Linked DNA regions of Homo sapiens: regions 1 and 2 are each linked to region 3. The links come from fine-mapping of genetic effects on gene expression. A gene starts in region 3. Each other region holds a variant in brackets. All regions are shown on one strand. Distances are between the middles of the regions. Region 1 has its middle 65 kb from the start of LINC00445. Region 2 has its middle 21 kb from the start of CCNA1. Region 3 holds the start of CCNA1 (cyclin A1).

Region 1 (2,500 bases), 670 kb after region 3:
TCTGGCCTTGGCCACCTCTGTGCCTCGGCCACCTCTGTGCCTCTTCAAGTCTGGAATTTGGGGATGATCCTCAAAGTGAACTTTCGCAGGAGGGACCACAGGCCCCTATGAGAGGACCAGACACCATCTGGAGGAAGTCAGAGCACAGCTGGCAGGCGGGCTATTTGCTGTTCACTGTCCTGCAGTTCCCAAGGATGCCTGGGAGAAGCTTTGGAGCTCAGACCCTGCACCGCAGCTACTCCTGTGTTTCCAAATTTCCCACCGCACAGCAGCAGCTCACGGTGCCATTGCTAGAGTTTCCAGTAAAGTCACTACCTTGTTATCCTGAAAGTACACGTGTATGTATGTGTGTGTGTATGTGTGTGTGTGTAGGCGTGTAGGGGTATATGTGCGTATAGGTGTGTATGAGTGTAGGTGTGTATGTATGAGTAGGTGTGTATGAGTGCAGGTGTGTAGGAGTGTGTGTATAGGTGTGTATGAGTGTATGTGTGTGTAGGTGTAGGTGTGTATGTGTGTAGGCGTGTGTATAGGTGTGTAGGGGTGTATGTATGAGTCTAGGTATGTATGTGTGTAAGTGTGTATGTGTGCATGTGTAGGTGTGTAAAAGTATGTGTATATAGGTGTGTATGAGTGTAGGTGTGTATGTATGTGTGTAGGTGTGTATGTGTGTAGGTGTGTATATAGGTGTGTATGCATATATGTGTGCAGGTTTGTGTGTAGGTATGTATGTTATAGGTGTGTATGTGTGTAGGTGTGTTTGTGTATAGGTATGTGAGTCATGTAGGTGTGTATAGGTGTGTATGTGTAGGTGTGTTTGTGTATAGGTATGTGAGTCATGTAGGTGTGTATAGGTGTGTATGTGTAGGTGTGTATGTGTGTATAGGTGTGTATGTGTAAGTGTGTGTAGGTGTGTATGTGTGTATAGGTGTGTATGTGTAGGTGTGTGTAGGTGTTTATGTGTGTATAGGTGTGTATGCGTAGGTGTGTGTAGGTGTGTATAGGTGTGTATGTGTAGGTGTGTGTAGGTGTGTATGT[GTGTATAGGTGTGTA/A]TGGGTGTAGGTGTGCATGTGTAGGTGTGTGTGTAGGTGTGTAGGTATGTATGAGTGCAGGTATAGGTATGTGTGTGTGTAGGGGTGTATGTGTGCATAGGTATGTGTGAGTGTAGGTATGTGTGTGTAGGTATGTGTGTAGGGGTGTGTGTATGGGTGCGTATGAGTGTAGGTGTGTGTAGGTGTGTAGGTAAGGATTGTGTATAGGTGTGTATGTGTGTGATGTGTATGTGTATAGGTGTGTAGGTGTGTAGGGGGTATGTATAGGTGTGTATGAGTGTAGGTGTGTATGAGTGTGGGTGTGTGTAGGTGTGTATTAGTGTAGGTGTGTAGGTGTGTAGAGTGTGTGTAGGTGTGTGTAGCTGTGTATGAGTGTAGGTGTGAATGAATGTAGGTGTGTGTATGTATGAATGTAGGTGTGTATGTATGTGTGTGTAGGTGTGTGTATGAGTGTAGGTGTGTATATGTGGTGTGTGTGTGGGTGTGTATGTATGTGTGTGTGTAGCTGTGGGTATGAGTGTAGGTGTGAATGTATGTAGGTGTGTATGTGTGTATAGGTGTGTATGAGTGTAGTTGTGTATGTATGTGTGTGTAGGTATGGGTGAGTGTAGGTGTGTATGTGTGTGTAGTTGTGGGTGAGTGTAGGTGTGTATGTGTAGTTGTGGGTGACTGTAGGTGTGTATGTGTGTGTGTAGGTGTGTATGAGTGTAGGTGTGTGTGTAGGTATAGGTGTCTATGTGTGTAGGGTTGTATGTGTGTATGAGTGTAGGTATGTATGTGTGTAGGTGTGTATGTGTAGGTGTGTAGGTGTGTATATATAGGTGTGTATGCATATATGTGTGCAGGTTTGTATGTGTGTAGATATGTATGTGTGTTATAGGTGTGTATGTGTGTAGGTGTGTGTGTATGTGTATAGGTATGAGTTGTATGTAGGTGTGTATAGATGTGTATGTGTAGGTGTGTGTATGTGTGTATGTGTAGGTGTGTGTAGGTGTGTATAGGTGTGTATGGGTGTAGGTGTGCATGTGTGTAGGTGTGTGTAGATATGTGTGTGTAGGTGTGCAGTGTGTGTAGGTATGTATGAGTGTAGGTGTAGGTATGTGTGTATGTGTGTGTGTAGGGGTGTATGTGTATAGGTATGTGTGAGTGTGGGTATGTGTGTAGGTGTGTATGTGTGTAGGGAGTGTGTGTATAGGTGTGTATGAGTGTAGGTGTGTGTAGATGTCTAGTATGTAGGGAGTGTGTATAGGTGTGTATGTGTGTGGTGTGCAGGTGTGTATAGGTGTGTATGAGTGTAGGTGTGTATGTGTGTGGGTGTGTGTAGGTGTGTATTGGTGTAGGTGTGTAGGCGTGTAGTGTGTGTAGGTGTGTACGAGTAGGTGTGTATGTGTGTAGGTGTATGTGTAGGTGTGTGTAGCTGTGTGTATGAGTGTAGGTGTGTATGAATGTAG
Region 2 (2,500 bases), 20 kb before region 3:
TACAAAAGTTCTTTGTGGTCATGTCGTGTGCTTAATGCCCAGAGGATATACTAATTGTTGGCTTCACCACCCATAGGACACACACCCCTGGATGAAAACCATTCTTGCTTAGATGCTCCCACTCCCAACACTGCAAATGTGATACCTGAAGCTCATGTTAGTCACAGGAAACACTACGTCATTAGGGTAGTGCTTAAGGATTCCATCTGGAGGATTCCATCTGAGGCCTGTCCATGCGCCAACTCCCTCCAACCTAAGCCCAGGTGTTGAGGAGTTATGATCTTGAACTTGGTTTTTCCATGGTTTCTGGAGTTCCTTTCTAGTTAAGCTTCCTAAGTTAAGGGAGAGGGGACAGTTGAGTTTACAGTACTGTGATATGGCCAGATCTGAGATGTTTGGCCTCTTGAGTTTAACGAAATAGAGAAAGAAGGAGAGAAAACCTCTGAGGGCCTCCCAACTGCAAGCAAGGCCTAACTCATGGACTCTCTTATCCGTCTGTCGTTGTGGGACAGACAGCTCTGAGCAGAGAGATGGTAACTAAAGACTAAATGCTGACTTTCTGCACATTTCTCAGAGTTATACTGCCACATAGAGGACACTGTGTGGTTAAAAGGAAGCAGGAGAGTGGCAGAGATGGCTCTTTCTCTCCAAATTCAGTTTGTTTGAGTGCAGTATAGATAATCAAATAGAATGGGACTTTTAAAAAAAATCCCATTATTTAAATTTTGCCTTGCTGTTTATTTCTAGCAGATGCGTAACGGTGAAGTCTAGAGTCCAAAGCAACCCTTGGAACAAAGAAGTTGAAACTGATGATCAATTCTTGAAGGTTCTAGTCTGAAACACCAGCCAAACTTTATTAAGCTCTTACATTTCCAGCACTGAGGTGGGTGCTATAGGCCAGTGCTTCTCAAACTTGAGTGTGCACACAAATCTTCTATCTTATTGAAGCACAGATTTCAAATTCAGTAAATCTAGGTTGGGGCCAAGGTTGTACATTTCTAAAAGACTTCCAGACAATGCTGATGTTGCTGATCCATGGACCACACTTTGAGCAGCAAGGCTGTAGAGGAAATAAAGAAAAGAGAAGTTCTGCTCTTAAGGAGCTTGTATTTTGCCACAAGATTGACTACTAATATTTGCTTGAAAGTATCAGTCTGAAGCTTTCCAGATAATTTTAAGGATCTTTGAATAAATCTCAATATATAGAGCCAAAATAATTCTCCTACAAGGAGTATTTGTATGTGTCTTGTGGAATCAATTTTTTTAAGCTGATGTTATGGAGTTACAAGTTTCAGAATTCTAGACTGTCAGATGTTAGTAACCCAAACTTTAGTTTTTCCTGAA[A/G]GTGAAAATATAATAAAATCACTAAGTGCTTAATAATACGAGACATTTAAAAGTATTCCAGTAATTTATCTTGTGTCAATATTTAATACAGAGCCCATCACTAACCTGGTGATTTGTATCAGCAGCATTCAACAATTTAACCCCAGGGGATTTGAGGAAGAAGGCTGCAGCTTTCCTGATGCCTCATTTGGACACAAGGGCAATGACTGTAATGCCAACAGGTCTAAGAAGCTAGGAATCTTCCTTAACAGCAGCTGAAGAATTCTATTTTTTTTTTTTTTTTTTTTTTTTGAGACAGGGTCTCACTCTGTTGCCCAGGCTGGAGTGCAGTGGTGGGATCATGGCTCGCTACAGCCTTGACCTCCTGGGCTAAAGCAGTCTGCCTGCCTCACCCTACCAAGTAGCTGGGACTGCAGGCATGTGCCACTATGTCCAGCTAATTTTTGTATTGTTGTAGAGATGGGGCTTTCACTATGTTGCCCGGGCTGGTCTCTAACTCCTGGGCTCAAGCAATCCTCCCACCTCAGCCTCCCAAACTGCCAGGATTACAGATATGAGCCACCATGCCTGGCCAAGAATTATTTTAAATTCTTCTATTTAAAATAAAGAGCTGGATAAAACTTTGAAAGGATTATAGAAAATTTACTAACAGGTAATTTAAACATACCCGTAAAAATCAAATTATAAATAATATAGAGGGCCAGGCTCGGTGGATAATACCTGTAATCCTAGCACTTTGGGAGGCTGAGGTGGGAGGATTGCTTGAGCCCAGGAGTTTGAGATCAGCCTGTTTGAGGACCTGTCGTTACGAATGAATGGAAGGAAGGAAGGGACAGAGGGAGGGAGGAAGGAAGGAAAGAAGGATGGAAGGAAGGAAGGAAGGAAAGAAAGAAAGAAAAAGAAAGGAAGGAAAGAAGGAAGAAAGGAAGGAAGGAAGAAAAAGAAAGAAGGAAGGAAAGAAAAAGAAAGAAAGAAAGAAAAAGAAAGAGAAAGAAAGAAAGAAGGAAAGAAAAAGAAAGAAAGAAAAAGAAAGAGAAAGAAAGAAAGAAAGAAAGAAAGAAAGAAAGAAAGAAAGAAAGAAAGAAAGAAAGAAAGAAAGCGAAAGAGCACACATGCATGGTGTTGCATGCTTGTAATCTCAACTACTTGGGAGGCT
Region 3 (2,500 bases):
TGGCTGACGCCTGTAATCCCAACACTTTGGGAGGCCGAGGTGGGCGGGTCACCTGAGGTCAGGAGTTGGTGACCAGCCTGGCCAACATGGTGAAATCCCATCTCTACTAAAAACACAAAAATTAGCCGGGCGTGGTGGTGGGTGCCTGAAATCCCAGCTACTCGGGAGGCTGAGGCAGGAGAATCGCTTGAACCCGGGAGGTGGAGGTTGCAGTGAGCCGAGATCGCGTCACTGCACTCCAGCCTGGCGACAAGAGCGAAACTCCGTCTCAAAAAAAAAAAAAGAAGGAAAGGAAAGGAAAGAAAAAAAAAGGAAAGGAAGAAGGAAGAGAAACAAAGAAAAAGAAAGAAGGAAAGAAAGAGAAAGAAAAGAAAGAAAGAAAGAACGAAAGAAAGAAAGAAAGAAAGAAAGAAAGAAAGAAAGAAAGAAAGAAAGAAAGAAAGAAAGAAAGAAAGAAAATAAATCAATCAACTTTCCTGTAGTCCAGATTCCAGGGTTGTAATACTCAGGGGGAGTTGTAGGTACAAGGGCAAGAGAAAAGCACCTGGCACCAAAGCAGGAGAGCTGTTCTCCACAAGCATCATTCTCAATGCGTCTGAGTCATTACCTGGCCACAGGTCCTCCTGTACTGCCCATTTGCAGTTAGCAGCCCTAGCACTGTCCTCTGCGGGGGATCCTGGCCCAGCGGGGCTCTGGTGAGTATCTGACAAGCATCGGGACCTCGGGCCACTGTAGCCAGCACAACTCCACTCTTGGGGTTGCTGCAGTGCATTGCTTCAGACTCCACGGGCTGCTGCTACCAGGGAAAGAGAAACAGACAAGCTGTTTAGTCGATTCCGTCCACCCCGGGCTCCAAGGACACAGCGAACCTCTAGGAGGGAGAGCACCAAGCAATGGGACTAACACCAATTGCTGATCTTCCCAGTAATTATTGGGGCTGAAAGGGCAGGTGCGACCGCACAGGCGATCAAAGTTGCTCTGAATCAAAACAGTTATTTGAATCCCTGAGGGAGGCTTTTTATCCCAAGACTTCGTGTTGGGCTGGAAGGAGAGAAACATTCTGACAAGCCTCCAAGTCGGGATACTAAACCCACGTTACCTGGAAGACGAAATCTGGGAGCCCCGGTCCTTCCCAGCTGAGATACTCTTCTCCCCAGCCCCCAATAAAAGATCCAGGGTACATGATTGCGGGAAAGCCGGTCTCCATCCCAAGTGACGAGCAGGGTGCTGCGCTGCGGCCTCCTCCCACCAGACAGGAGGCCCCAAAACCTGCCTGGACCCCAAAGCGGGCCCCGCTCTTCCCGTCGTTATCTTTCTATGTGTCCGGAACAACTGGCAAGTGCACTGGAGGATCGCGGTTAAGAGGTGGCCGGCTGGGCGGGGCAGGGCGGGGCAGGGTTGGGCAGGGCCGGGCCGGGCCGGGCGGGGCAGGGCGGGGAAGGGCAGGGAAGGGCAGGGCACGGAAGGGCGGGGCGGGAAGGACCAAGTGTCGAGGGATTCCAGCCTGGGAGGCGGCCGGGCTTAGCGATGCGGCTGAGCTGCCCACCCGCGTCTGTTGAATCGGCCAATCAGCGGCGCCCCCGGACCTAGCGGGAGCGTTTCCATGCCGACCGCGGCAGGCGTGCGCTCTCCGGGGCCGCATCGCCATGGCGACCTGCTCACCTGACTCGCTCCGGGTGGACTCGCCGCGACCCCTGGGCGTTCAGGCCCCTGAGGGCCCAACGGGCGACGGCCCTCCAGCTCCAGCTGTGCGTCTCCGCCCGGGCGAGGTGGGGCTGACCGCGGCCGTCTGCACACGTCCCCTCTGGTCCGCGCCCCCGGCCTGGGAGGGCGGACTCGCCCACCCCACGATGGCCCCGGCTTTGGAAGGGACTGTTTCCGTGACCCGTTCTCCCAACAGCCGCTAACAACCCCCTCTAACGTCTCCTGCGCGGCCCGCTCCTGAGAACCCTGGCTCGGGAGAGCGACGCGGGGTCCTCGGGGCTGCGCAGGCTGCGGCGCCCTGCCCACGCTGGCCCGAGGGCGCGGCTCGCTCCGGGTCGGCTCACACACCTACGCTTCCTGCCGGGAGGCGGCTGGGACGCGGCGGGGCTGCCCCAAGTGCAGTCGCGGCAGTGTTGCGTCTCCATCGCGGGGGTCCTTGCGGGCCGCGCCTGCCCCGCCCGGCTCCCGGTGCATGTGGCCTGCGAGGCGGCAGAGGAGATGTGGGGATTTAGGGTCGCACGTCGTGCTCGAGGTCCCCACGAGAGGTCTTCCCCCGCGGGCTCCTGCGCAACTGCGTGAAGCCGGCCCGGGAAAGCCAAGATTGTGGCCCAGGAAGAGGAAGGAACGCGGGCGACAGAGCTGGGGCTTGGGACGTTGAGGGGGTCGGTGGCAGCTCTCCGGGCTGGGGGCCGGGCGGGCGGCCCGGCCGCGTGGGGAGAGGAGTCCCTGGGGTCCTTATACGGGGGGCTCCTGGAAACCCGGGGGCTCAGACGCCTGCATAGGTGACTGACAAGCC

Evidence for each region.
Region 1: its variant is fine-mapped to the expression of CCNA1 in lymphoblastoid cells (GEUVADIS, PIP 0.95).
Region 2: its variant is fine-mapped to the expression of CCNA1 in whole blood (INTERVAL, PIP 0.99).

The regions. Positions count from the first base shown.
Region 1 is chr13:35,761,621-35,764,120 of GRCh38, reverse strand. No RefSeq gene overlaps it. Among named protein-coding and RNA genes, the nearest start is that of LINC00445, 65 kb to the right of the region's middle. The variant GTGTATAGGTGTGTA/A (reference allele first, on the strand shown) is at 1,036.
Region 2 is chr13:36,451,797-36,454,296 of GRCh38, reverse strand. No RefSeq gene overlaps it. Among named protein-coding and RNA genes, the nearest start is that of CCNA1, 21 kb to the right of the region's middle. The variant A/G (reference allele first, on the strand shown) is at 1,345.
Region 3 is chr13:36,431,329-36,433,828 of GRCh38, reverse strand. It overlaps CCNA1 (cyclin A1), which reads right to left and starts at 1,334. Exons shown (of 9, transcript NM_001413923.1): 1 at 1,100-1,334; 2 at 608-796. The coding sequence starts at 772. RefSeq lists silencers at 1,441-1,600, 1,631-1,680, 1,961-2,030.